7 linked regions of the Homo sapiens genome follow. The protein of the gene in region 1 purifies or fractionates together with the protein of each later gene. This does not show direct contact. Each region holds a gene or a part of one and is shown on either strand. Other genes may lie near its edges. The genes, in order: AIFM1, FAM91A1, COX6B1, SGPL1, SERPINB3, CPOX and MAP3K4.

The links.
Region 2: the proteins of AIFM1 (region 1) and FAM91A1 purify together in Homo sapiens (co-immunoprecipitation; 2 studies listed by BioGRID and IntAct, with this or other methods). This does not show direct contact.
Region 3: the proteins of AIFM1 (region 1) and COX6B1 purify together in Homo sapiens (affinity purification with mass spectrometry; 2 studies listed by BioGRID and IntAct, with this or other methods). This does not show direct contact.
Region 4: the proteins of AIFM1 (region 1) and SGPL1 purify together in Homo sapiens (affinity purification with mass spectrometry; 2 studies listed by BioGRID and IntAct, with this or other methods). This does not show direct contact.
Region 5: the proteins of AIFM1 (region 1) and SERPINB3 purify together in Homo sapiens (affinity purification with mass spectrometry; one large-scale study listed by BioGRID and IntAct). This does not show direct contact.
Region 6: the proteins of AIFM1 (region 1) and CPOX fractionate together in Homo sapiens (co-fractionation; one large-scale study listed by BioGRID). This does not show direct contact.
Region 7: the proteins of AIFM1 (region 1) and MAP3K4 purify together in Homo sapiens (affinity purification with western blotting; one study listed by BioGRID). This does not show direct contact.

Annotation. Positions count from the first base shown.
Region 1 is NC_000023.11:130,155,372-130,159,581, forward strand, and holds part of AIFM1 (apoptosis-inducing factor 1, mitochondrial isoform AIF precursor), read right to left. Parts: intron 1,233-4,210; coding exon 1,090-1,232; intron 1-1,089. UniProt on the Homo sapiens protein: Functions both as NADH oxidoreductase and as regulator of apoptosis.
Region 2 is NC_000008.11:123,806,117-123,810,326, reverse strand, and holds part of FAM91A1 (protein FAM91A1), read right to left. Parts: coding exon 4,098-4,210; intron 2,056-4,097; coding exon 1,951-2,055; intron 1,435-1,950; coding exon 1,311-1,434; intron 46-1,310; coding exon 1-45. UniProt on the Homo sapiens protein: As component of the WDR11 complex acts together with TBC1D23 to facilitate the golgin-mediated capture of vesicles generated using AP-1.
Region 3 is NC_000019.10:35,651,323-35,655,532, reverse strand, and holds part of COX6B1 (cytochrome c oxidase subunit 6B1), read right to left. Parts: coding exon 4,184-4,210; intron 963-4,183; coding exon 862-962; intron 1-861. UniProt on the Homo sapiens protein: Component of the cytochrome c oxidase, the last enzyme in the mitochondrial electron transport chain which drives oxidative phosphorylation.
Region 4 is NC_000010.11:70,853,391-70,857,600, forward strand, and holds part of SGPL1 (sphingosine-1-phosphate lyase 1), read left to right. Parts: intron 1-1,317; coding exon 1,318-1,465; intron 1,466-2,397; coding exon of another isoform or gene 2,398-2,430; intron 2,431-4,210. UniProt on the Homo sapiens protein: Cleaves phosphorylated sphingoid bases (PSBs), such as sphingosine-1-phosphate, into fatty aldehydes and phosphoethanolamine. Elevates stress-induced ceramide production and apoptosis.
Region 5 is NC_000018.10:63,654,457-63,659,363, forward strand, and holds the end of SERPINB3 (serpin B3), read right to left. Parts: intron 4,175-4,907; coding exon 4,057-4,174; intron 2,957-4,056; coding exon 2,814-2,956; intron 2,531-2,813; coding exon 2,375-2,530; intron 1,606-2,374; coding exon 1,201-1,605; 3' UTR 741-1,200; downstream 1-740. UniProt on the Homo sapiens protein: May act as a papain-like cysteine protease inhibitor to modulate the host immune response against tumor cells. Also functions as an inhibitor of UV-induced apoptosis via suppression of the activity of c-Jun NH(2)-terminal kinase (JNK1).
Region 6 is NC_000003.12:98,581,279-98,584,321, forward strand, and holds part of CPOX (oxygen-dependent coproporphyrinogen-III oxidase, mitochondrial precursor), read right to left. Parts: intron 234-3,043; coding exon 129-233; intron 1-128. UniProt on the Homo sapiens protein: Catalyzes the aerobic oxidative decarboxylation of propionate groups of rings A and B of coproporphyrinogen-III to yield the vinyl groups in protoporphyrinogen-IX and participates to the sixth step in the heme biosynthetic pathway.
Region 7 is NC_000006.12:161,088,764-161,092,973, reverse strand, and holds part of MAP3K4 (mitogen-activated protein kinase kinase kinase 4), read right to left. Parts: intron 3,653-4,210; coding exon 3,503-3,652; intron 1,596-3,502; coding exon 1,434-1,595; intron 965-1,433; coding exon 831-964; intron 1-830. UniProt on the Homo sapiens protein: Component of a protein kinase signal transduction cascade. Activates the CSBP2, P38 and JNK MAPK pathways, but not the ERK pathway. Specifically phosphorylates and activates MAP2K4 and MAP2K6.

The sequences.
Region 1 (4,210 bases):
GAAGCAGTTTTGGTTACCCTGTGCTAAAAAAGGAAAAAGAAAAAAATGCTGCTCCAGGATTGCAGAATGTGTATTTCATCAAACCACATTATCAGACAGCTCTCGCCTATTTCTTACTCTGATTTGACTCACAATAGGCAAGAACTATCTACTTTTCTTGTCCGTTTGGGAGTCACATCAGGGGATGAGGATATAGGTAGCTTCAAATAATTTTCATGTCCCTTTCTTTAAGCTAGCAACCAAGGAACAAAGATAAATTCATTGTCTTACCAATGTAGAAAAAAACCCCTAAACTTGTAATGGCTTAAGTAAAACAAACAGCTTCCTTCAATCAAGGGTGTTACTAGGTGTTATCTAAGTTGGTTCACTCAACCTTACAGGATCCAACTTTAGACTGATCGGCTTAGTCACAGTAAACCCTGCCAAGTTAGGAAAAAAACACCCACAAAATAATTCCTCTGTGACCTGCTAAGCTGATCGGAGTTCATTTAAGGAGATATAATGGTGCTAATACTACATAGCAATTAAACACCATATTTCTCACCTCAAACAAACTCCATTCTAAAATCAGTGATACTAGCCCTGTTTCTGTAATTTAGTCTTTGGGTAAGATTCAGGGATAGCTTTCCTTTTAGGAACACTTAATATTTTTGATTGAAGGCTGTTGTTTTTTTAATGTGAACCTCAAGCTGAGGAAATAAAATGTCTGACAAATAGGTCAAAATCAAATATTGTGCTAAGGAGCTGCAATGGATTTTGACTTTATTCACAGGTTAGTGTGTGACATCCAAGAAAACAGGTACAATTTTGTGGGTTACTCGAATCTAGGAAAACATAGTGGCTTTCAAGTAAAGAAGAAAAAGACAAGTGAAAAGAGCAGAAATCAATCAACATGAGATTAAATTTCAGTCATTCCAGAATTGGCTCCCATAAGATATTAGGCAGCAGGCACTTAAGAGAAGGCTTTTTGAAAATTTTTCCAAAAGGAGAAAGGGGAATTAGTTGCAAAAGTTTTAAAGCAGAATACTATCGAGTCTATTAATGGGAGCTGTTTGGCAGCTTCTTTATACACGCTGCTTTTCTACTTACATAGGCACCAGCTCCTACTGTTGATAAGCCCACAATAAGGACTAACACAGAATTATCGATTTTGCCCCCTGATGCACCAGAGCTAGCCATTTGTCTTGTCATCTGGAGTTCTAGAGGAACATGCCATCGCTGGAACAAGTTGCCTAAGAAACATAATTTATTAAGACACACACATACAAAAATAAAATAGTTAATACATATTTATGATTAAATGTCAATGCACTGTACAAGACTTATTGCCCACAGATATTCACCGTTAAATGATCAAGAAAAATATCATCAAAACTGCATATATAAATACTACAGACAGCTGAATGAACGCTCTTAAGTTGCTGAAGTTTTTAAGAGTAAAATTTAATGCTGTCCAGTGAGAAAATTTTCAGCTTCCAGAAAAGATCATGAAAAACACGAACAGTTCATCAAATACCTCTTCCTTCATGTCTTTCCCATAAATTAAGTAAACACAGAGAGATGACTGAATAGGTAGATATACAAAGTTAACCATGGGCTACCTGGGACATTATAACAACCATTTAAGGAGTAATCTAGATGGTTCCAATCTTGCACAAAATAAAACGCAACACTCTAACCAGGACACAGTTCAATCTTGCATGAAAGGTAATGTGTCCTGGAATACAGAAATGTTAAAGCTCAGAAGAAAATCAGAAAAAAAAATTTTAATGAGTTTCTCTCCCCCAAAGAACTAAAAAATTTTGGACTATGAAATATTTTTTATAATGACAAAATGTGAAGTGTCCAGCAACTCCTTGACTCTTACTCCTCCAAAATAATACAAAGGTTATTTTGACGTAAAACTATGCAGAGCTATGTAATGATGTGATGATCATAACAGCACCTGTACATAGAAATATAAGAGTTCTGTAGATTTCTTTTTCTAGGGAGACGCTGACATTTTCAGATAAAGGAAGGTCTCAGTCTCTGATTATTCTGTGATTACTCCTCGTGTTTGTTGACTATCAACCTAGAGCAGCAAATTTTTTCTGCAAAGAACCAGATGGTAAATATTTTCAGCTTTCTGGGCCATTTGGTGTCTGCTGCAACTACTCAATTCCACTGATGCTGCATAAAAGCAGCCAAAGACAATACATAAATGAATGGATGTGGCCATGTTCCAATAAAACTTTATGGACACTGAAGTTTAAATTTTATATAATTTTCATGTGTCACGAAATTCTTTTTTTTTTCAGCCGTTTAAAAAATGTAGGTCAGGCGTGGTGGCTCACGCCTGTAATCCCAGCACTTTGGGAGGCCTAGGTGGGCAGATCACGAGGTCAAGAGATCGAGACCATCCTGGCCAACATGGTGAAACCCCGTTAAAAATTAGCTGGGCAGGTGTGGTGGGGCATGCTTGTAGTCCCAGCTACTCGGGAGGCTGAGGCAGGAGAATCGCTTGAACCCGGGAGGCGGAGGTTGCAGTGAGCCGAGATCGCACCACTGCACTCCAGCCTGGCAACAGAGTGAGACTCCGTCTCAAAAAAAAAAAAAAAGAAAAGAAAAAAGACCAGGTGCAGTGGCTCACGCCTGTAATCCCAGCACTTTGGAAGGCCGAGGAGGGTGAATCACCTGAGGTTGGGAGTTAGAGACCAGCCTGACCAACATGGAGAAACCCTGTTTCTACTAAAAATACAAAAAATTAGCCGGGCGTGGTGGCTTATGCCTATAATCCCAGCTACTCGGGAGGCTGAGGCAGGAGAATAGCTTGAACCCAGGAGGCGGAGGTTGCAGTGAGCCGAGATTGTGCCATCGCACTCCAGACTGGGCAACGAGAGCGAAACTCCATTTCAAAGAAAAAAAAAGAGAAAAAGAAAAAAGAAAAAAAATGCAAAACCCACTCATGGCTCCTGGGGCATACAAAAGCAGGTGACTGACTGGCTTTGGCCTGTGGCTGTAGTTGGCAGACCCCGATCTAGAGCAGTGGTTTTCAAACTTGAGAGTGTATCCCAATGCCCTGAAGGTTTTATAAAACAAAGCTGGCCAGGCCCCAGGCCCAGAGGTTCTGATTCAATAGATCTGGGATGGGGCTCAAGAATGTGCATTTCTAACAAGTTCCCAGGGGATGCTGCTGTTGCTGCTGCTGCTGTTAGGGTGGGGACCACACATTGAGAACCATCTGTCTAGAGCAGGTATATCCTATCTTTTGGCTTCCCCGAGCCACATGGGAAGAAGAAGAATTGTCCTGGGCCACATATAAAATACACTAACACTAACCATAGCTGATGAGCTAAAAAAAAAAAAAAAAAAAAAAAAAAAATCGCAAAAAAATCTCATAATGTTTTAAGAAAGTTTACAAATTTGTGTTGGGCTGCAGGTTGGACAAGCTTAGTCTAGAGGCTGATACTTATGTCCCTGTCCTGTCTAGGCTTTAAAAGACAAACAGAATGGACACTGGTAGTAGCATCCCATGTATACTTGCAGAGATTAGAGAAGGAATTTCCCCCTTGCTTTCATAACGTTAGGCCACAGACGGGTAAAAACAAGCCCAATGTGGATCTGTGGTCTCTCATCTGAAATCCTGGGGACCATGTATAATTTGGAACTTTGAATTATCTGGTCTTAAGTATATGGGGCATATACCACATAGTGACACCTAGCAAGGTAAAGGGCAGCAATTCATAGTTAAACATATTAATATGACCAATCACGCTAAGTGATATTTTAAAAAGATTATAAAGTAGCCTCTCTCCAGTTCAGGTCAGGTTTTACTGGCAAATGAGTTATGAAAACTTGATAGTCTTAAATTTTGGTCATTCTACAATTTCAATTTCTGAATTACAGATAAGAGACTTTAGATCTACACTCTTAGAAAAGGAAATGTATTTTTCTTTACTGTTCTTCTTACCTGCTTTTAGAACTCTTCATCACCACATGAAATAAAATGGTTGAGATTTGGAAATAATGACAAATCATGAAAATAAAAACGTGAGCGGGGCAGAAACTTATCTCAATCTGGGCAAGCTTTTGATTTTCAGAAGCTTACAAAAATAATGAACCATCAGAAGTAGAAAGTGGTAACTCTCAGAGCTTAGAAAATGAAACTGGTTAGGAAAAGTTCCATGTGATTTAGTTCAATGAATTTAGTTTGTCCTCCACCTCTACCCCT
Region 2 (4,210 bases), on another chromosome or scaffold:
ACTTGCAGAGAGAGTTTTCTACTGGAATGTAAGAGGTTTTGAAGGCTGAAAAAAAAAAAGGCGAGAAACAGTTTAAAACAAACATAAAGGCAAGAATGAGTTTCTCATAAGAGTTTAATTTTAGCAATTTAAATGCATCTATATATCCTGGCCAATCACAAAACATCTTAAAAAACAATTTCAGTGTTTCTCATCAATGAAATTTTTGCTTGTTTTAATAATAGGGAGTAGTCATGCATTAAAAGTCCATTTTGAAATAAAATACATCGTGTAACTAAAATCAAAGTTATTGTTTTAAAAAAATTCAACTACTATAAACATAAATGTTAAATGAAAGAAAACTTTTCAAATGAAGATTTAGGCACTCTGAGGAATGACAACTATGACACAACCTTTAAACAACCAAAGTAATTGCAAAAGACAACCTGATAACAGATTAAACACACACCAACCTACCTAAATATTTTTCAAATATGTAAGTCAGTAAAAATTATAGTGGTAATCTTTAAAGTTCTATAGTATTTCTATTTTTTACTCATGTATATTACTTTGTTTTTAGAGAATAGATGTTGAAATTGTCAACTGAGTACTCTTCATTTTCTGATAAAAGCTACATTACACCATTTAAATGAATTATTGTCCAACTTCATTTTCTAAAATAAGAAGATCTTGACTTGTGGATTTCACCTCTCCAAGCCACCTATCATGACAATTAGATTCAATTATACTCTTTCCTGCTAACCCAGTTTGTCTCAGAACCTTTACAACATTGCCTCTTAGCAGCTACTCACAATGGATCAGAGCTGGTATATAAGATAAAACCTACATGTCATCTTTAAGGAGTAATACATATCCATTTTAGAAAATGTAGAAAGTGAAGAAAATTTTGCAAAGTCATCATAATTCCACCACAAAAACCAATCACTATTAACAGAATATAACATGAGTGTGTGTATGTTAGGAGTGAGAGAAATGCAGAGAAATTTTCTGTAGACATACATTTTTTAAAATCTAGGTTCATACTCCATATCAGCATGCCCATTTCACCACACCCTCACCTCACCTAGATTACTAAATAAATATAATCAAAACATGTGCCCAAAATGTTTGCCTGTGACTAATTTCTGATCTAGTGAAATTTAATTTTGAAAAATACAGCAAAACCCTTAAACTAGCGATCTCTATTCAATCAACAAATATATACAGAACAATTACTGTGCTCATGTGTGGAATAAAAGTAAGATATGGTAACTATTTGCTGACAGCTTAAAAATTGATATGAAAATATGACAGCGAATATAAACCCTCACCTCTCTTTTCTGCAAAGGCCATGTGCAGCAATTTTCCTACAAACTTTCCGGTTTAATTCGGAACTGAACAGTGGAATTCCAAAGCACAGCTCGAGAGGAACCCAATCTGCTTCTGTTGTGGCACCTAAGAAAGGATACATAAACTTATTTTTTTATCATATATATCTACTTATGTATATATTATATATAACTGACAAGGGTTTCTTAACCTGAAGTTCATAGATTCCTCCTGCCCCACTGATATCCACCAGTGGGCTTGGCAGGGGAGGAAGAAATTGAAGGGGGTCAGTTAATCTCTAAACAGGATAGGCATTTTTAGGGTATAAACATGTGTCTGAGAAGGTACATAGCTTTCATCCAATGTTCAAAGTAGTCATTTGCCCAAAAAAGAGTATTGCAAGATATCTGTAAGATGAGAGAATGAATCAAAACATTTACCACAGGAATAAGATTATTTTCAAGTCATAATTTTATAATACTTGAATTATTTTTCTAAGTATGTAAAAAGGCTTCCTAGAAAACTCTTATTTAAAAGTCGTATGAATAATAAGAATAGACAAATGGCATGCAAATGCCTTAACATAAAAGTTAAACCTCAGAAATTAGTCTAATAAAATTGGAAAAAGTTTTAGCACCATACCAGAGGTTTGCTTTGTTGCTGAATCTATAGTTGCTTCCTCAATGACCATTTCAAATGACTCTGTACTCCCATTTACATCTGAGCCAGAAGCCAAATCAGGTTCTCCTTATAATTAAAGGGCATACACAATATTAGGATTCTAGCAGTTAGCAGAAGCTGCCAATAAATCAGTCCTAACATGGAAAAGACTTCAGACAATAGTAATGATGACAGAAAGAAAATGCATAATCCTTGGCTTAAATAAGTGGTTTTAAACAGGGGAGCAATTTTGATCCCCAAGGGACACGAATGAAGACAGGGATGCTATTCGTATCTATGAATGCTAAACATCTGACCATACACAGGACAATCCTCCACAGAAAAGAATTAGCCAGCTCAAACTGCACATAGTGCTGAGATTGAGAAACCCTGACCTAAAGAAACAAAATTCAAAAAGGAGGACCCAAGTTACTGAAGCCAATTGCACCCCTGTGGAAATATATAGTCTGATTATGTTATTACTCTTCAAAGTTCTTTTCTGACTCATTATCTTTCAGCACAGAAGATCCTCCAAGATCCCTTAGACCTTATCTACTTCTCTACTCTCATCTTCTACTACTGTCCAACAAATCCTTTCTTTTGGCCACAATGAACTACTGTTTTCTAATTCCCCTCTGCCTGAAAGGCTGCCACCCTCCAAAAACACATTATCTTTTGTCTACCTAACTCTTCAATTTTCAAAACTCAAACTTCACCTTCTCTAAGAGGCCTTCTCTGTGCTGTGTTAGCGCTTTATGCAGACCCCATCATAGTCAATAACACCACACTGTATACTGACTCACTCGTCTCCTCTCTAGGGTTTTCATCCTTGGAACAACATTGTCTTTTTTGTTTCTTTTTTTTTTTTTTTTTTTTTTGTAGAGACAGGGTCTTGCTCTATTGCCCGGACTGGTCTCAAACTGCTAGCCTCAAGCAATACTCCTGCTTTAGCCTCCCAGAGGACTGGAATTACAGGCATGAGCCTGTACCTGGCCATGCCTGGCCTGGTCTTATTAAATTGCTCCAGCACCTAAGCAGGTATTCCATAAATGTTTGTGGAATGAATGACATAAAAAAGGAGAGCTGTAGTAGATACGCTTTGAAATGACTGCTTAAGTCATAGCCCTCTTCTCTAGAAAATGCTCCTGCAATATTTGGCAGTCAACTATTTGGCCAAAGACAAATGAGATAGGAGTAAGTACCTATCTCAATGGGAGCCAACCCAATCTACTGGATGGCAAGTAATCAATCACATTTCCTCAGAATTTCAAACTAAGAGGCTCATGGAATACTGTCAATCAATGGGAGATAATGAAAGATCTCCCAGAGTCAATGGATAAGAACTGGCACCACGGCAACCCAAACCACATATATGCCAATATTATGCCAGAGCAGAAACAACTAGTAAGCATGAGAAGGTGATTTGAAAATGGATTTTCAAATTAAAAAAAAAAAAAGTAAGTGATATCTAAGGAAAATTAGCTATTGTCAATATGTAGGACAGACTGGAGATAGAAAGGAGAGGCCAGAAAGGCTAAGCAGGGAATGGTTGCAACAGCACATGTTTAAGGTTTAAAGTTCAAGACCCAGACAAGAAGAGCAGTCACAGAGAATTTAAAATGAAGAGAAAGGGGAAGAAATGGACATGAGAGACTTATCTAAAGCCTAATTCACAGAACTTGGAAACTAACTGAACATAGTGGAAAAAGGAAAGAATGAGACAAAGGTAAGATTTTAGACCTAGATAATTAAGACAATGGTACCTTTTGACAGAAAAAGTTGAAAGGGAAAAACTATTAAGTCAATTTTGGAAACACTTGTATAAAGAGACTTGAGTTTTGAAACCATCACCCTATAAAGCTAACCTAATAAAGCCTAATAAACACAGATATGACAGTAGAGCACCCAAAAGTCCCAAACCATTCTGTACCCCAATCCTATTTTCTTCATTTGAACAACTGACATTTGTCCAAATGATGTTCCAAAATATTTCCTCGTGCTTCAGTGAAAGAATATTGAGTATTCAATAATTCAGCATCCCCACAAAGGTCTGCTGCTTTTCATATATTAACACTGTGTCAAACTCAAAACCAATTATCTTAATCCAAAGAATCCAACTATTGGCTAACCTCTCTCATCAGAAGCATCACTGAGTTTTCTATCTGCAAGTTGGCTGGAAGCATTCAACATGGTGACATATCCACAGAGATGCTGTAAGTCCACTCTGTTCCTTAGTATCTGC
Region 3 (4,210 bases), on another chromosome or scaffold:
ATTATTTAGAAGTCCACACTGAAGTAGGCAGGGGTGAAATGACGTGTCTGGGACTTGCTTTAGAATACTTCAGCAAAGGAAAGAAGAAAACGAAAAGGGGTAGATGAAGAAACCGTGGATAAATCCTGATAACTATTCACTTTGGGTGATGGATGTATTTGAGGTCAATGAATTATTATCTCTGCTTTGAAAATGTTCATAATAGGGCCGGGCACGGTGGTTCACGCCTGTAATCCCAGCACTCTGGGAGGCCGAGGCAGGTGGACCATGAAGTCAGGAGATTGAGACTATCCTGGCTAACATGGTGAAACCCCGTTTCTATTAAAATACAAAAAACTAGCTGGGCATGGTGGTGCACACCTGTAGTCCCAGCTACTTGGAAGGCTGAGGCAGGGGAATCGCTTGAACCCAGGAGGCGGAGGTTGCAGTGAGGCAAGATCGCGCCACTGCACTCCAGCCTTTCCAGCCTGGCAACACAGCAAGACCCTTGTCTAAAAAAAAAAAAAGAAAAAAAAAAAGAAAAAAAAATGTTCCTAATAAAAAAGGACAGGACTGCACAGAATTGTGAGCTACACAGGGATGGGAGCCCAGTGCTGAGTGTGTATTTGGAGAGTGCATGAGTGAGCTACATCTAGCAAAGCACCCTGGTCGCCTCAGCTGAGAGCCCTGACTGGTTGAGAGGCATCAGCAGAAGGAGACAGGGAGGTAATTCTAGGCGGGAGGAAAGGCACTGAGTCCTGGGACAGTGTGGTGCCCTGTCCTCCCTCTGCCCCTCACAGATGAGCTCCCACCAAGCCACCACACTCCCCTCTGCTAAGACCCCACCCCAGCATCCCAAGGGCCCTGGCAGGAGGCACATACCCAGGATGTGGGGCAGAGGGACTGGTACACACGCTGGTACCATTCGCACACAGAGATATCGCCTCCTTTAGCGGTCATTGCCTTCTGACAGCGGTGGAAGTCTGTGAAGAAAGGGGTTCAAGTCAGCCCAGATCAAGAGTTGGAACACATTTTTTTTTTTTTTTGAGGTAGGGTCTCAATCTGTCACTCAGGCTGGAGTGCAGTGGTGCGATCTCAGCTCACTGCAACCTCTACCTCCTCCTGGGTTCAAGTGATTCTCCTGCCTCAGCCTCTCAAGTAGCTGGGATTACAGGCACCTGCCACCATGCCCAGCTAATTTTTGTATTTTTAGTAGAGACAGGGTTTCGCCATGTTGGCCAGGCTGGTCTTGATCTGCCCACCTCGGCCTCCCAAAGTGCTAGGATTACAGGCGTGAGCCACTGCACCCAGCAAAATTACATTTATAAAGATGTTTACAGCCACACCATTTGTAAGAACTCCAAAATGGAAATCACACAAGTGTACAGGCATAGAATAAATTGTAGAAAACTGGACAGCAATGAAAATGAGCAAGCTATATGCCACAGCATGTATGGATCTGAGAAGGTACTGAATGAAAAAATCCAAACACAAAAGAATACACACAGTATGTATAAAGTTCACAAAGAGGTGAATCTAAACACGGTGGTAGCCGGGCATGGTGGCTCAGGCCTGTAATCCCAGCACTTTGGGAAGCTAAGGCAGGTGGATCACTTGAGGGTAGGAGTTCGAGACCAGCCTGGACAACATGGTGAAGCCCTGTCTCTATTAAAAATACAAAAAAGTGGCTGGACCTAGTGGCTCATGCCTGTAATCCCAGCACTTTGGGAGGCCGAGGCAGGCAGATCACGAGGTCAGGAGATAGAGACCACGGTGAAACCCCATCTCTACTAAAAATACAAAAAATTAGCTGGGCGCGGTGGCGGGCACCTGTAGTCCCAGCTACTCGGGAGGCTGAGGCAGGAGAATGGTGTGAACCCAGGAGGCGGAGCTTGCAGGGAGCCGAGATCACGCCACTGCACTCCAGCCTGGGCGACAGAGCGAGACTCCATCTCAAAAAAAAAAAAAAAATACAAAAAATTGGCCAGGCACGGTGGCTCACGCCTGTAATCTCAGCACTTTGGGAGGCCGAGGCAGGCAGATCATGAGGTCAGGAGATCGAGACCAGCCTGGCCAACATGGTGAAATCCTGTCTCTACTAAAAACACAAAAAATTAGCCGGGCATGGTGGCACGCGCCTGTAGTCCCAGCTACTCAGGAAGCTGAGGCAGGAGAATTGCTTAAACCCGGGAGGCGGAGGTTGCAGTGAGCCAAGGTTGTACCACTGCACTCCAGCCTGGGCAACAGAGCGAGACTCTGTCTCAAATAAATAAATAAAATTGGCCAGGCATGGTGGCTTACACCTGTAATCTCAGCACTTTGGGAGGCTGAGGGGGGTGGATCACGAGGTCAGGAGTTTAAGACCAGCCTGGCCAAGATGGTAAAACCCTGTCTCTACTAAAAATACAAAAAAAAAAAATTAGCCAGGCATGGTGGCAGGCGACTGTAATCCCAGCTACTCGGCAGGCTGAGGCAGAGAAGTGCTTGAAGCTGGGAGGCGGAGGTTGCAGTGAGTCGAGATTGCACCACTGCACTCCAACCTGGGCGACAAAGCGAGACTCCGTCTCAAAAAAAAAAAAAAAAAAAAATTAGCTGGGTGTGGTGGCGAGCGCCTGTATTCCCAGCTACTCAGGAGGCTGAGGCAGGAGAATCACTTGAACCCGGGAGGCAGAGGTTGCAATGAGCTGAGATCGTGCCATTGCACTCCAACTTGGGCAACAAGAAACAGACTCCATCAATAACATAACAACATAACATATATAAAATAAAATAAAATAATAAACATGGTGGTAAAAAACAAAGATGTGAGGCCGGGCACAGTGGCTCACGCCTGTAATTCCAGCACTTTGGGAGGCTGAGGTGGGTGGATCACCTGAGGTCAGGAGTTCAAGATCAGCCTGATCAACATGGTGAAACCTTGTCTTTACTAAAAAAAAAAAAAAATACAAAAAATTAGCTGGGCATGGTGGCGGGTGCCTGTAATCCCAGCTACTAGTGAGGCTGAGACAGGAGAATTGCTTGAACCCAGCAGGCAGAAGAGGTTGCAGTGAGCCGAGATCGTGACATTGCACTCCAGCCTGGGCAACGAAAACAAAAAACTCAGTCTCAAAAACAAAAACCAAAACCAAAAACAAAGATGTGATAACCCCCAGTTAGTGGCGTCACTTCTCTACTGGGGAGAGCGGGGTGCTGTGTTCCAGACAGGACATAAAGAAGGTGGGGAGGCCAGGCGCGGTGGCTCATGCCTGTAATCCCAGCATTTTGGGAGGCCGAGGCGGGTGGATCACCTGAGGTCAGGAGTTTGAGACCAGCCTGACCAACATGGAGAAACCCCGTCTCTACTAAAAATACAAAAAATTAGCTGGGTGTGGTGGCAGGTGCCTGTAATCCCAGCTACTTGGGGGACTGAGGCAGGAGAATTGCTTGAACCTGGGAGGCGGAGGTTGCAGTGAGCCAAGATTGCACCATTGCACTCCAGCCTGGGCAACAAGAGCAAAACTCCATCTCAAAAAAAAAAAAAAGAAGGCAGGGAGATGAGAGTGTGGGCAATGTCTGCTTTTCTCTCCAGGTTATGGTTGCACAAGGGGTTCACTTTAGAATTATTCATTTAGCTGTACATGTTTGTTATGTGCTTTCTGTACATGTTACAGTACGCACACACATACAGCTTAAAAAAAAATCATTGTAGGGGCCAGGCACGGTGGCTCACACCTATAATCCCAACACTTTGAGAAGCTGAGGCAGGAAGAGCGCATGAAGCCAAGAGTTTGAGACCAGCCTGGGCAACAAACTGAGACCTCTTCTCTACAAAAAAATTAGCCAAGTACAGTAGTGTGGGCCTGTGGTCCCAGCTACTCGAGAGGCTGAGGTAGGGGGACCTCTTGAGCCCAGGAGGTTGAGGCTGCAGTGAGCTATGATTGCACCACTGCACTCCAGCCTAGGTGACAAAGTGAGACCCCATCTCTGGAAAAAAACAAAACCAAACCATAATAATAATAAAAAATTTAAATTAAAAAAAAAATCATTGCAGGAACTAAAGTTTGTAACCCTAGCCTGGACCTGAACAGCAGGTGATGAGAGGCATGGGCCTTCCAGAGTAAGGATGTTCAGAATAAAAGGGAGGAGGCTGGGGTGGATGGGTCCCCTAGGAAGAGGCAAGCGGTGAGTGACTCGAGGTATGTGGCCAGGGAAAGGTCCTGCTTACCCAGGTAGTTCTGCCAGCAGTTTCTAG
Region 4 (4,210 bases), on another chromosome or scaffold:
AATAGCACTGTGACAAATCGTGACATGTAGCTTCTCTCCCCAAACCTACTACCCAAGAGCCTTTTGCTATAAGCAGCAGCCCCTGCCCTTCTGCCTCCTTACTCTGCTATTTTTTTTCCCTCAGCACTTTTTGTTACCTGTCTTACTATTTTCTGTCTCTCCTGCTGAAAATAAACTTCATGAGGACAGGAGGTTTTTTTTCCTGTGTGCTCCATTGCCTAAGTTTGTTTTGTTCACTATGTGTCCCTGGCCTGCATATTTGTGAATATGCAGTGAATATGAATGTGAATATGTAAGTGAATAAAAGAAAACAGCTCAGAAGCTGTGGCTTTGAGGATGGAAAAGAAGGGAACCATAGTTGATAAACTACCTAGCAGAAAGGACCTTAGTTCCTTTTAATATTTTGGGGTCAGACAGTGCAAGCTGTCGACAGCAGCTTAAGGAGATACATTAGAGTCTTCCTGGCAGTTCTTAGAATGCCTTGTGCTAGTGTTGAATGGGACCTCCAAATTCCTAGTGTGCTGCGTGTATGTCTGTTGAAGGAGCTCATCACTTGCACAAGGACCAGAATCACTTTTACTGCAGCATGGCCAGTTTTCTGGCCACTGTTCCTAGTTATACCTTTGATTCTTTTACACACACACTGTAGCTGCTGCCAAGGCAGGATCAAAGTCCAAATACTGCCCTCAAGGATGTGCTGACTTTAGCAATGCCAACCAAGTGAAGCAGCAGTGATGTCAATGTGGCAGAGAAAAGGGTTATGGGGAAATTGGGTGCAACTTTTTTTTTTTTTTTTTTGAGACAGAGTCTTGCTCTGTTGCCCAGGCTGAATGGAGTACAGTGGTGTGATCTTGGCTCACTGCAACCTCCACCTCCTGGGTTCAAGTGATTCTCATGCCTCAGCCTCCCAAGTAGCTGGGATTACAAATGCCTGCTACCATGCCTGGCTAATTTTTGTATTTTTAGTAGAGATGGGGTTTCACCATGTTGGCCAGGCTGGTCTCGAACTCCTGACCTGTAATGATCTGCCCACCTCGGCTTCCTGAAGAGCTGTGATAATAGGTGTAAGCCACCGCGACCGGCTGAGTGCATCTTGACCTTTAGAGAGAAGCTTCGCTTTTCAAATTTTTAAGAGGCTATTGTACATGCCAGAAAGTAGCTGATCAGTCAGAATATCACCATATATCTTTAGGAAAAATGTTAGTTTAGTTACTTGTGCGGTGCCTAGCATTGAGCAGTTGCTTGACTGTCATAATAATTCTGCTGTCTCTACTGTACTCTTGCATCTGGATAACTTTGTCTTTCTTACCTTTGGAGATTCAAGACAAGTTGAACAAGACCAAGGATGATATTAGCAAGAACATGTCATTCCTGAAAGTGGACAAAGAGTATGTGAAAGCTTTACCCTCCCAGGGTCTGAGCTCATCTGCTGTTTTGGAGAAACTTAAGGAGTACAGCTCTATGGGTATGATGCTTGGCATATACATGCTCTCTACTTCCTTAAAGAGACAGGTTTTGTCATTGTTTAATGTTCACATAGGTTAAGAATAACTCATCATTGGTTAATACATGTTTAGGAGGGCCTACTCTCTGTTTCACAGGTTGAATTTCCTATTTTTAAAATTATGTTTAGATTCATCCTTCATCCATAAAGCAAGCAAATCTCAGAGACAGTGGAACTTGGCTTTTATTTCCTTTTGTAAGCATGAATAAAACAAATATATTTGTGTTTAAGAAGAGAGAATATAAGATATGTAATACAAATGAAATACAGATCCATGTAAAAATGTGAAATCTGCATAAAGGCACAAAAGAAAATAAGTCACTATAATTCCACTATCAAAGATAAACAGATGGTGTCTATCTTTATGCATGTAGCTATAGGTAGAGCTGTCTATATAGTTTACATCTATCTATATATGTATATCTGTCTGTTTCTGAGAATGCTAATAGTGTTTGTCTGTGTGTATACACATGTATGCATGAGCACATATGGGATGGATAAATAGACCAAATAGCTTGGTGCTTAAGAGCGTAACCCTGGAACCAGCCTGGATTCATACCTTGGTTTGCCACTTAAAGTATGCCTTTGGCGAGTTACTTCTGTATGTCACAGTTCCTGTATCTCTACAATGGGGATAGTAATAGTAGTACAGTACTTACCTGAAAAGATGATTATGGGGATTAAATGAGATCATACATGTATAAATGTTTTATAGTGCCTGGCATATAGTAAGGATTCAGTAAATGTTAAACATTATTGCTATTATTAACTCAAACAGATTTATGTTTGTTACTGATTAAGATCATATTACAAGTACTTTTTAAAAAGAAGCTTTTTAGTTTGATATATTTACAGAAAAGTAGCAAAGATGATAGAGATTTCCCTATACCCAGCTTCTCCTGATGTTAACATCCTCTATAACCATGGTACGTTTATCAAAACTAAAAAATTAACATTGGTACAGTGCTATTAACTACACTACAAATTCTATTTCTAGTTCATCAGGGTTTTTTTTTGTTTTGCTATGTTTTGTTTTAAACTAATGTTCTTTTTTCTATTCTAGGAGCCAACCAGGAGCCATGTTGCATTTTGACAAATACCCTTATTTTTTATTTTTTGAGACAGAGTCTCACTGTGTTGCCCAGGCTGGAATGCAGTGGTGTGATCTCAGCTCACTGCAACTTCCACCTTCCAGGCTTAAGCAATTCTCGTGCCTCAGCCTCCCAAGTAGCTGAGATTACAGGCGTGCGGCACCATACCCAGCTAATTTTTTGTGTTTTTAGTAGAGATAAGATTTCACCATGTTGCCCAGGTTGGTCTCGAACTCCTGAACTCAGGTGATCTGCCCACCTTGGCCTCCCAAAGTGCTAGGATTACAGGTGTGAGCCACTGTGCTCGGCCTTGACAAATACCCTTACAATTTCTAAGTGACATGTGTTGAGGTCTTGACATTGAATAGTACAAAATTTGATATAGTCTAGGATGTAGATGAATAAAGCAGTGGTTAGCACTCTAAAACCTGGTGTTAAAGATTTCCATGATTATGAGACCTGGTTGCCGCCATCATATTGCCTTCTCTTTAATGTTTAAGTCACTGTCCATTGCTGTATTCTCTAGCATCAGTAAAAGAACAGGAAATGAAACCAGTTATCTTATTTTTGAAAGGCTGGTGACCACTGGTCTGAAGCTGTGTATAGTACAGAGCAGTGTCCTCTAAGGAAAGAGTGAAAGTCAAACGGGCAGCAAGCCAGAGCTTGGCAGATTGCTGTAAGAATGAGTTTGTCTGTATATTTACCACTTAGTTTTCTGTTCTCAAGAGCTGAAGATCTTTGCTTTGGAGAGCCCTTGGCTCCATGCAGTTTTTAGTTGGTGTGTTTCCGTAATAGCTTTCTCACTACCCACTTTCAATAGGGCACAGCTGCATTGTAGCACAAGGACCTGAGACACCCATATCAACAAATTTGTGGGTAAAATGAAGAATGTCTCGGGGAGAGAGGAAAGTGGAAAGTCAGATCTTATATTCTACTCAGGAACTTTACTTTTCTTTCCACACTGGGATAAAGGAGGTTTATCCCAATGTTGACTGTGTTCCTGATCTTGAATATGCTACAGCGTGTGCTGCTGGAAGCAGGTAACTAGTTTTATGTGGGTTTCCAGGCTTGGCTTAAGGGAGCCGGCGTCTGAGACCGGGGTGCTCATGGTTTATACCTCATTGTGGTTTGTTTGCTGGTTTCATCTCTGATGATAGTGTGCTGAAATTTCACACTTTTCATTTTGCTTTCTTCTGCCAACTCTGCTCATAATAGTTCTCAAAATTCCTAGGACTGGATAGGAAAGGAGAGAAGAAGGAAGCTATTGCAGAAAAAGGCCACTCCAAAGCCATATAGAGAACAAAAAATAAGTATAGACAAAGGCAAATGTTCCTGCTGTTAGAAGGCAGTTGAGGATGAGGACAACATTATTATCAGATTGCCTTTATTGTAGCTAAATGCTATTAATATCTTTTTCACATTGCTGATAATAATGATTTTTCATCTTTATTTTATTGTGCTAACTCTATTGAACTTTTTTCTTGATTTGCTATAAGAATGCTGTTGGGTTTCCACTCAACATTTTTTTCTTTTGTATCCAGAGGAGTTTCTTCCTGTTTCTTCTTTATCAGAACCTGTCTTCCCAGAGATTCTTGCTTACTGACCAGTGACCTTA
Region 5 (4,907 bases), on another chromosome or scaffold:
CAATTCCAGATTCTTCTTTCTTCTAACTTTATCCTTCCTCCCTAGGATCTTATCTTTGCTTCTAGCTACAATTACCATGTTTATCCCAATAACTCTAAAGTATTTATGTTGAATATCACAAATTTAGAGCTTCAGATCATATTCTGTTTCTGAGATTTAGATCAATATCTTCAAGTACCTGCCAGGCAAATTCATTTGAATATTAAAAGTACCTCAATTCATCAAGTACAAATTTAAACCCATGGTCTTTTTTTTCTCTCAAAAACAACATTTTCTTCCATCCTTCCAGTCAGATAGCTCAGAAACTTAGATGTCTTTTTTTAACTATTACTTCCTAAATAATTCTGCCAGGCTGTTTCTTTCTCTTCATTTCCACCCCCAATACTCTAATGATTTCCTGATTTATATATGGTAACCACACTGTTCTTTCCTCTCATCCATTGATATCAGAGTAACCAGAGATGTATTTTCAAGATGAAGATATGATAATTTTATGCCCCTCTTTGACAAACAACCATCAAAGCCTGTAATGAGTTTCTTATCCCTTTAGCATAAAATAGGAAGTTCCTAATGTGGTTTACAAGGCTCCTCCTGTTCTGGGATATGCCTTCTACTCCAGGCTCATCATGAACTACTCTGTTTTTAATTTTCCTTTGTTTGTGATTAATATATCTCTAAATTGTCTTTCCTGTGTGTAACTGGACACTTTCCCTTTCCAGAGAGAAAATGTAAAGCAAAAATGATTTTATGTCACTATTTTATTGATGATGTGTTTTATAGAATCACAAAATTTAGAAACATAAGAAGGATTTAGGTATCACCTAAATTCAAAGAAATGTGTGTTTCTAGGTTGCTAAATTCAAAGAAAAAGTATGATTTGGTTTGGTTCATTTAAAACAGGTCACAAACAGAATTATATTTCAAATTTAGAAGATACGGTATTAAGTGATTCATCTTATTTTGGACATTTTTCCTCAAGGAGAATTTTTCTGGAAGAAAAAGTACATTTATATGTGGGCTTATTAAGAGAAAGAGAGAAAGGCATGCTATTTTAATCATTAAATTCTTGATGATGACGATCATCATCAAGATGAGAAAGAAAAGAAATATGAGCCAAGAGAATCTGTTGTTGCCAGCAATCAGTTTACCAGAACATCTGCAGGTGAACATTTTCCAAATGGAGTGACAGACTAATTGCATCTACGGGGATGAGAATCTGCCATAGAAGAGGATGCTGTTGGTCTTATTTTGCCTTATGAAGAATAGGAAAGGGTGATTACAATGGAACTCTTCATTAGTTGAAGTAGGTGATGATCCGAATCCTACTACAGCGGTGGCAGCTGCAGCTTCTGCTCCCTCCTCTGTAACCTCCACAAAGGCCTTGTGTAGGACTCCAGATAGCACGAGACCGCGGCTCCCGGTCATGCCTGAGAGGTCTGCATCCCCATTGAAGATATCCACCATTCCCATGGTTCTCAACGTGTCCTTGAGGTCATAGCTCTCTTCCACTTTGAACCGAGGTAAGTGTAAATCGACACGTGTCTCTCTCATATTCTGCAAACTTGTCCATTCCATCAATTTCTCAGCAGTGAGTTTCTCTTCAAGCTATACAAATGGAAAAAAGAAACTGATATGACTAACTGTTGATTTCTAATACACCTTAACAATGAATTGACTATGTGGAGAATCCTTATTTTGGCAACAAATGTGAAATACAGAAGGTTCACTTTATTAGATATTATTATTCTAATAGGCAAAATATGAGTCCTGGATATATAAATACATTGGGTTATATGTGTATGTGTATAAACAGAATCAAGTTTTTATGTATATGTAATGTGTACATATGTATGTATACAACTGTATGATACACATGTAAAAATATGATTACATTATTTTGTACACAATGAACTATATATATCACTATTTCTTGTGCCAACAGCCTACTACATGTGTCAATTTTTAATAGGCTCATCTTATTTTTCTGTATACATTATTTAGTACACATTGCAATTATTAAATTGCAATTCCCCAAATTCCTAAATTTCTATTCCCTTTTTTACTTGGTGTATTCGTAAACTTTCCTCACATTGCTATATATTTCTCCCAGTCAAGTTTAAATTGCTGCATAATAATATCATTAAATTGATATCCAATGCATGTAACTCTAATAAATTAATCATTAACTATGCCTTCAGTTTGTGTCAGGCCCTATGCTTAAATCTTTGTAATATGAAGGTGAGTCATCATTCCTCATTTAGAATTTTTCATTATTTTGAGGCAACTCGGTCACCAGCTTTTACCTTGTTTAAACTTGGTATCTTTGGAAAAATGTCAGGCAGTAGAAGGAAGAGTTGTAGATGCAAGTTCTTACCTTCTGGAGACCATCGATTTCATTTGGCAGCAACACAATCATGCTTAGATCTTTGCCTTTGTATGGTATTTCCAGGACCTTGGCCTGTACATCCTCCAGCGAGGCAAAATGAAAAGATGTGTATTGCCTCATCATCTGTATGGACTTGTATGTATTCTACAATAAATCAATGTGTCCAACAAATACCAAGTGAGACACAAGGCAAAAAGATAATATTATTGAGATATCAACACATCCTTCTTTTAAGAAATAATCCAAGAATGTAATGAGTTAGAGACAATAGCTTCTTCAGGAATTCCTAACTAAATAAAGTTATAAGACTAAAACAACAAAAAAACAGACATGAACAATTTTATTTTTTACTTGTCATGGTACATTCCATCAGAAATGTTTAAATTTATTAACATATTACATTATATAAATAAAATATAGACAATACCTTGTTTGGCCAAAATTTTTCCTCTTTAGTATCTTCTTTATTAAATTTCTTCTCCCACTGCCCTTTGAAATAGATTGCGTTCACAAGAACCAATGTGGTATTGCTGCCAATATTACCTTCAGGAATTAGGTTTTTAATTTTTTCTGCAAGGGAAAGAATAAAAGAGTCTTTTACACAAGCTACAAATGGCTTGTCTGGAAGATGCTTTGCAAATGTTCGTGACTGATCGTTAATTATTGACCCAAATCCCTACTTGAGACTCACTGACTTTGATCTTTGAATTGTTAGACTCACTGACCAGTGGTTCACCAGATGCAGCTTTCTTCAAGGCTCCAGTCGTATAAAGTTGCCCTTAATGGAGACATCACTTCTTGTGATAGAGAAGGAGTTCACGTTCTCTGTGTATGAATGAGTCCATTCATCTGATTTGGAATACTGATAAACTGATTTTGTCTACTCTTTCAACATGTGTCTTTCCTTTCTCCCTCCCTCCTCTTCCTACTTTTTTTTTTTTTTTTTTAACTACGGGGTCCCCATTCAGAGGAAGTAGGCCCTGACTGCTTTTTAGGACAAGTGACATGAGCTCTGTAATATGAAACGCATGTCCTGTGCTGTCAGACACTACTTCCGGGGGTATCTTCCTATTCACTCTCATGTTGAGTTGCTGTAAGTTTGGCCTGTAATGAGAGGTGGGAGGTAGGATAGATGTCTATAGAATGGAGAATTTGTTAAGCTCTTGCCCTTGATGGGGAAGAGAGCTGTGATAATCCCTGCAGAACTTGTGGCTAGAGATGTGATCCAGGCAGCTCTAGTTCAGATGGCAAAAGGGTGATTTACCAGAGAGCTGCTTGTTTCCCAATTAGTAAAGGGGAAGGGAGATGCTTTCTAATGTTTCCTTTTAAATATTCATCATAAAATATTGGTTCTGATTTAAAGTAAAGGACATGATCTCAAATTGGACCTGAGTGGAGACAAGGGATCCACAAAGCTATTGTCATCCAGGAACATGAGCAAAGAATCCTCCGGCTATGTTTTCTTCTAATTGGCTTCCTGTGATTTCCTCCTTGGCTCCCCTAGGCTCTCTTCATAATCATTTGGAAAAACTCTTCATCTGGAGTGCCCTCTTCTTCCCTCCCTGCAAAGCCATCTCAATTCCCACCCATGGTCCCCCATGCAGTTTCAGGCATAGGGCTCACTCGCATAGATTTCTCAAAGGTGTTTCTATAATGGGTGGCTCTCCTACCATTCGTTTGACTTTCCACCCAGGAGTTAATCTTCTTTCGACTTTCTTCTGGAGCATTTGCAAAATCAACAGATTCCACACTGGTCTGGTAAAATTTCTTGATGGCATCTAAATATTCCTTTGAGATATGAAGGAAGAAAGTAGGAAGTAAGAGTAATTTATGTAACTATATATTACCAAATTTAGTTATTTATAATTATAGTAAGCTGAATCCAGACCCTGAATAGATGCAGTATCTCCTGTCCATGCATATTTTTATACTGGTGCCATGTAGGCAATGCAAAAGCGGAGTGCGGGCTGGCGCAAGAAAGAGGTCACCGAAGGTCAATATCATCTGGCAAAAGGCAGAAGCAGAAGAGGCTGTGGTTTGCAAACTGCAGAGCAGGCTTCCCTGAAGGAGATTCATTGCTTCTCAGACCTCTTTCCAGTAATTTCAACCATGATGTTTCTGATCTTTGTTTTTATCTTTCATCCTGTGCATTCAGTATTTCCTGGTACTTCCTCAACTATTCTCAGGAACTCACCCAAGCCTGCCCATTCCAATAATATCCCATTAGTCATACATTTCCCACCAAGATGTATCGTATGTGACTGAGTCAGTGCCAGTTTATCGATGGTATCTTATTACTTATTACTCTTACTCACTCTATTACCCAACCTCCTCTTTTATTACAAGATTATCCCTAAATCCACACTTCAGTGATGTATTGTTAGGGTCTGGGACACTCCAGTGGGGGAGAGTTGTGGAAACGGAGCTATTGCACTCTGAGTAAATGCTCTCCACCTGGATCGGTCAGGCTCATCTGCCTTGCTTTCTTCCATTTGGCCACTCAGAGACACAGACATCAGGA
Region 6 (3,043 bases), on another chromosome or scaffold:
TATAAAATCAGCAAAGTCAAAACTAACAAAGACCTAGGCACAACATCTGCAGTGTTAACTTTCATATTTTGTGGGTGTTTGGGAATTGGGAGTGTAGGGATAACTACTAAAATGAGTTATCTCCTTACCGGGCAGTTAGAGGTAAAGACATCAAGATACTTTCAATTCTGGATCCTGGAGTGAAGAGGCCAAACTTTGTGCCCCGATCATACAGCAGATTAAATTCTACATACCTGCCATAAATACATCAAATAACATTAAGGGCCAGCTCAATAAAATCTTAAGACTAACCCATAACAAATACTTAAAAAGGGGTGGGTTCTTCCCCCCAGTTCCCATCAGCTGGAACTGGCACAGAGGACACCAGCCTACAGCCCATTGAGAGCTCTCCATCTGGACAGGCAGAAATAAAAGGGTATTCTACCCACCAAACAATAGAATATAGATTCTGCCCCAACATAGAGCAGTCACAATACAAGGTTATGTTTTCCCATAAGTAAACAGAATTGACACAAAGCTGAGAAGTTTAAAGCAGAACAACAATTAAGAAAAAGAAATGCATCCCTTCTCAGGATAACCCAGCTCTTTCTGGCCTTCCTCATAATCTGGAATGTTTTGGACTCAAAGATTTCATTTCACTGCCTGTAACCCACAACTACTACTACTAAGATGGTGTAAAACTTCTGACCTGAAAGGCCAACTACAGCTAACAATAATCTATTAATAATGGACTATGATATTCTATATATTCCTCTTTCCTAAAGTAGTTAATTGCATTAATAAGCAGTCATATAATTCAGTCTCTCTGCAGATTAATAGCAATCATAATAAAAGGTAGTGTTGAGTTGCAGTGTTTTCATTTTTTTTTTAAATACCCTTAGCATCAACTAAAACTTGGTTCAATATGTTAACTCCCCTAGTCAGATCTGGACTCCTTCCAGTTTAAAACCCTGCATCTGCCTTTAACATAGGATGTAAACGGGTCTCCCTCTCCCATTTCAAAAGGATAATTTCTACTACTCAAAAGAATTTAGACTGATTCATAATCTGAAAAGTTCAATAAACAGTGCCCCTTTCAGATCATTTCTTATCTTATTCAGAAATTACTCCCTTGGTCTAAACTTCACTCACATATTCTTATTTACCTATTGGTTACTGTCTTGATGCCCATCTATAGCAAAATATCCTCTAGATTCCCACAATAATTTTTTTTTCTTTTCTTTTTTTTTTTTGAGATGGAATCTTACTCTGTTGCCCAGGCTGGAGTGCAGTGGCGCAATCTCAGCTCACTGCAAGCTCCGCCTCCGGGGTTCACCCATTTTCCTGCCTCAGTCTCCCGAGTAGCTGGGACTATAGGCACCCGCCACCATGACTGGCTAATTTTTTGTATTTTTAGTAGAGACGAGGTCTCATAGTGTTAGCCAGGATGGTCTTGATCTCCTGACCTCGTGATCTGCCCGCCTCGGCCTCCCAAAGTGCTAGGATTACAGGCGTGAGCCACCACGCCCGGCCCACAATACTTTAATTTTTTAAAAGCACCTTTTGTATGTGGAACTTGTCAAAAGCCCTGCAAAAGTGTAAAGAATTTTATCTATGCTCCCTTTCTAACTCTCACCATTTATCATTGACTTTTACGTACAAAAAACTATTTAATACCTTCTTATGTCTGTTTCAAAAAATAATTTAAGTGAATCTTCTGAATCCTTTTCTAAGACCATGGAAAATAATTTCATCTTTTGGCTACCTTTTTCACCTGATATTATCTTTCTGAAACATCTCTCTAGGGGATGGGTATGGTTCTCTAGTTTATATTGATGTATTTGAAGACCTATCGCAGAGACCCTTGTAAAGATTCCTTAATGAATTTTCTGTTGGATCCTTTCCTTTATTGCGTGAAGGATGCCCCTTTCTCTACATTGGCCTCTCTACCTCCCACCAAGTTGCACTTAGATCTGATTTTTCTTTTTTAATAAAAAATTTCCATCTCCTATTCCTGGTATAGATCTGATATTCTATATATTCTTCTTTCTTAAAGTAGTTAATTGCATTAATAAGCAGTCATATAATTCAGTCTCTCTGCAGATTAACAGCAATCATAATAAAAGTAGTGTTGAGTTGCAGCATTTTCATATTTGTTTTTAAATAATATTATTTAATCTTTTCTGATCCTTTCCATACATCTGTCCTCTCTGGGGTGCCTATAAGTTAGGGACTTTAACCAATCCCTTCAATTTAACTAATGCCTAAATTTTATCCTGTTTCCCTTTCCCAGAATACAACGAACAAGTAAGTTAAAAGTCTTTAATTTCTGTTTTCCTATGAAAAGGATAACTGTAAGACTGATGTTCAAGGTCTGGGGGAGGATAGCAGTAACTGTGGGCAAGAAACTGGATGAGATTGCCAAATAAGAGACTGTAAAGTCAAAAGGGAATGAGACTGACTGCTGAAAGGGAGACCGGTGTTTGGACAGGGTGAAGACGAGGCAAAGTGGGTAACAGTAAGTGAAAAGGATACAGAAAACTGGTCATGACTGCAGTATTAGAAACCAAAGACAGTGTTGATAGCCCCAGAGAAGAACTGGAGTTATCTTAGGCCCCAGAGTTTATTGCCATCTTAAGGACCAGAGATAAGGGAGGCAGAAAGAAGCTGTCTTTGAAGAACAGTCACACACCATACCATAGAAAATTAATCTACTACCCCACAGTTCTGCCTATCTCATGACACCAGACATGCAATGATACACAACAACGACTTTCAGAATGATCTGCCATCAAACGATGTATAAAAAACAAAACAAAACCGCAAAACAAACCATTACTCCTGTCTATGAAGTTTTAAAGGATTCACCTAATTAGTATTGACAAAATCTGCCAAGTTTTGCCTTCGAAATCTTGTGCAAAACTAGAATACTTTACTTTGCACAGAGTTCTAAATTGTCCTCTTGGGTATGTCTTCCCCACTAAACTATGAGGTTCTTTTTGGCAGGTCCATGTTACAGCCACCGGGTAGCCAAGATAGTGCCTCATCACAGGGGCCCCAAAAT
Region 7 (4,210 bases), on another chromosome or scaffold:
TACACGAAAAAGTTCAGTAATCACATAACAACCAAGAAAACGCTGTAGCAGTTTTAGACTGTACAATACTGAAAAGTAACATAATTATAATTACTATTTAGGACAAGACACTTTTTTTTGCTTGGGTTCAGTAAGTTTACAGCGTGACCTTTTGGAAAGGAGAATAATTTTTTAAAATTTAATTTTGTTTTGAAACCAATGGGAAGCATGGAAGAGGATTTTAGACATGATAGGTGCCATCTGTAATTCAACAATTATTTATTTGTAATTCAACAAGTATTTATGAGTTTTGTAACACAAAGTTCCTACTTTGAATCTCAGATGCAGCAAATGTGTTTTCTCTAACTTGGAGAAATTGCTTAATGACTTTAAGAAAGTGCCCCATGCTATCCCTCCATTACAAATTACAGAACACTCAGCTATTTCTCACACAGTCATGACACTTTAATAACTATGTTTACTTTAGTGGAGCTAGTATTGAGCCTCACAGACGATTCACCCATTTCACCCCTGCAAATTCCAAAATGGTTTCTTAATGAATAAATTTCATGAGGGAGGAAAATACATTAGTCATCAGGAAGACTTGTCAAAGGAGAACATGAGTTCCCTTAAAGGTAACTCAAATTTGGAACAAATTTAAAAAAAAATTTTTTCCCAAGAGTTACGCAGTTTTCTCTACATATTTTTCCATTAAAAAAAACCTGATCACCGAAGAGTTTAGAGTGTTCCCTTCTGTGTCGTCTGCTCAAAAAGAATCCCACAGAACATATATGAACAAATACCACCAAGCCCACATGACACATTTCAGAAACATCCTACTTGGTCATTACCTGGGTCTTGTACCTCTACCACTCTCACATTTAGTCAGGACATAATTCATCCACTTCCGGGCAAAGCTTATATATTTGTCTCCTATCTTCTGTCTAAACTCCCCAGACATCAAACGAACAACTTCTTTATGATACTGTAAGAAGATTTCATGTATATCAACATTAAGGAAATGATCATTAAATAATATCACACACTATAATGCCATGTCTAAAATGTTTTCTAAAAACAAAAAGTGAAATCCAATTAAAATTTCTATATTTTGAATAGTATGAAGAATTATGGAAAGTACAGTGTTTCAAAATGCAGTTTCATAAATGTTTTACTCCTGAGTTTAAATTAAGAATGTGCTTTTATGACATAAAACATCTCTTTAAAGTTTTAAAATGTAAGTAGATGGCTGTTAGCACAAAATAAAAGTTGGACAATTACCTAACAGTTTAAAAGTAAACTAACATCTCTGATATACAGCAGTGATATAAGATGATATTCTTGATTAAGCTATGATTACAATATCAGATTTACTGTAAAAGGTTCCAAAAACTTTCTGTAAGTTATCAAGCAATTACTAAATTGTACCGTGTTTCCTCTTATTTTGAACCTACCTCAAATCCAAAATTGTACCCCTGAATCATTGCTTCTCGGTAGTACTGTTGCAAGGTGACAGATTCAGATTCATCAACCTCAGCATCAAATTCTGATGTGAACATGTGGTCCACGCGGTCAATGGCATTGCTTATCCTGTTGCATAGCTCCAATGCATCATTCTGAAGAGTCCAAACCATGATTAATGCAAAATGAAGCAAATCATACAATACTTACCACATTTTAAAGGAAGATTTCGTTCATCATCACACAGACATTAACCACTACAAACAATTCAGCCACTTGGTAAAGGAATTACCAAATATAGAAGAAATTATGTCATTTTATTTGGCATTCTTAAATAGAAGAGAAAAAAATGCATTTAAAATGATACAGTCTAGTTATAATCTGCTCTTGGAATAGATGCTTTTATCTTCAATATTTTTATACATCAACCACCTGTTGTTTTCTCCTCCTGGACGGTTGCTCAACCATAAGTACGGGTGCAATTCCACAGAGTGAAAAAGTCCATGTACTTCTAGATGACCTCCTCCGATCGTGCTGTCCTCATTTCCCTGCTACTCCCTAGTCCAGGGGTTCTCTTCTGGGGCAGATTTCTCCCCCTCCCCTCAGCGTCTGGAGACGTTGTCCAGAGAAGTTTTTGATGGTCAAAATTTGGAGGAAAAAGTGGAAGTACTGGGATATGGTGAGTAGAGGCCAGGGATGCTGCTAAACATCCTACAATGCGCAGGACGGCCCTCCACGACCAAGAGTTACGGGCCCAAACGTCCACATCCAAGAGGCTGAGAAGCCCTGCCCTGGCTCTAAACATCCTACAATGCGCAGGGCGGCCCTCCACGACCAAGAATTACGGGCCCAAACGTCCACATCCAAGAGGCTGAGAAGCCCTGCCCTGGCTCTAAACATCCTACAATGCGCAGGACGGCCCTCCATGACCAAGAGTTACGGGCCCAAACGTCCACATCCAAGAGGCTGAGAAGCCCTGCCCTGGCTCTAAACATCCTACAATGCGCAGGACAGCCCTCCACGACCAAGAGTTACGGGCCCAAACGTCCACATCCAAGAGGCTGAGAAGCCCTGCCCTAGCTCTAAACATCCTACAATGCGCAGGACGGCCCTCCACGACCAAGAGTTACGGGCCCAAACGTCCACATCCAAGAGGCTGAGAAGCCCTGCCCTGGCTCGAGCTTTTGTCACCTCTGTCAGCAACATCACAATAGCTCCAAATCGGTCTCTCTCTCTACCCACCCTTACACACGAGTGCACACAAGGTCTCCATCAGGCAATCCCCTTACTATGGTTACAAAATATTCTTCCAGCAATCCATAGAGAGAGATAACCTAAATATTTAGTTAATAAATGTTTATAGATAAATCAGACAAATCAGACCAACAGAAGAAAAACAAGTGTTTACGAAATGACTTGTAACTTCAGAGAATGTTTCTTCTTCAAGAAGTTAAGCCTTAATGTGAGTGAGAAGACATAACTGATGGCCTGGAAAAGTGTGGATGAGATCAAGACTGATACATGGGATACAAAATAGAAAGTGTCAAAAACAGGAAATAATGGAAAAAGACAGCCAGGCTGGGGCTTGTCATAAACTTTGAAAGGCCTTTGTACTTCTCTGCAACTTTTTTCTATTATATTTAATTTGGTTGAATTATTTATTAAACAAAACAATAAATAAATCTTCTATTACACACTGCTGATATGGAGTACCTCTAGTAAATACTGGGGATTGTGAAAGGAGAATGAAATTTACACTGGGAATGAAGAGACCTAAATTATTAAATTTTCAACTTTGCCACTAACCAGTCATGTAGCCATTATGAATAAGTCACATAAAGTTCAATTCTCTATCCTTTCCAATTATAAAGTTCTACAGCTTCAGGAAGAATCTCAGAATATGTAGTTTAGACATAAGAAAATATGTATTGGGAAGAGAGGTGAGTGGGCAGGCAATTCAGGAGCTCAAGTTCCTTGGATGATATTACCTTACACACATTACCACACACTGACTTTCATCAAAAAGGAAAAATCTCAGCTAATGTAGAGGACAGTGTAATACCTTCAGCTGCTGCAAAGCTTTGGCGATGACCGGCTGACTGGATGTCTGCTCCTGGCACAGAGTCATAAGTCCCTCAATGGACTGCTGGAAAGCTTTTCTCTGAATTGTGAGATGCGCAGACTGCATGACAACTAGTAAAAGATTATCCACCTGGGAGGAAAATCAAGCACAGGACATAAAAACCAACCCAGTTACTAGTTGTTATTCTAGTTCAACACCAGTCCAAAAACAATGCCAATCTCAGGGATACCAGGCCAACAACCATCTAATCAGAAAGTCATTTTTAAGCAAAGCTTCTCCTACACAGCAACACGCTTCAGTGGGCATTGACAGCTGGGATATTCAGCACCACGGAGAAGAACCCTTTGGGACTGCAGGCATGACATCTTTGAGATATCCTAGAACTTCAAGTAGTTCAGTACTGCCAGTGCAGAGTGTGTGTGAGTGTGTGTGTGTATGTGTGCATGTGTGTGTGTATTGGAGCAGCATATGAAGAAGGAAAATGTAGGAATAAGACAGAAATAAGATGAGGGGCCTTATATAAAACATTAAGAAATCAAGACTTTATTACTTTTGTTCTTAAGAGATGAAGAATCTTTGCAGTATTTTAAGTAGATCTGTGATGCAATCAGATGTATTATAATGATCATTCTAGAAGCACAAAAACAAACACAGAATTGGAGAGACAGAAGGTGAGGTTTGAAGCAG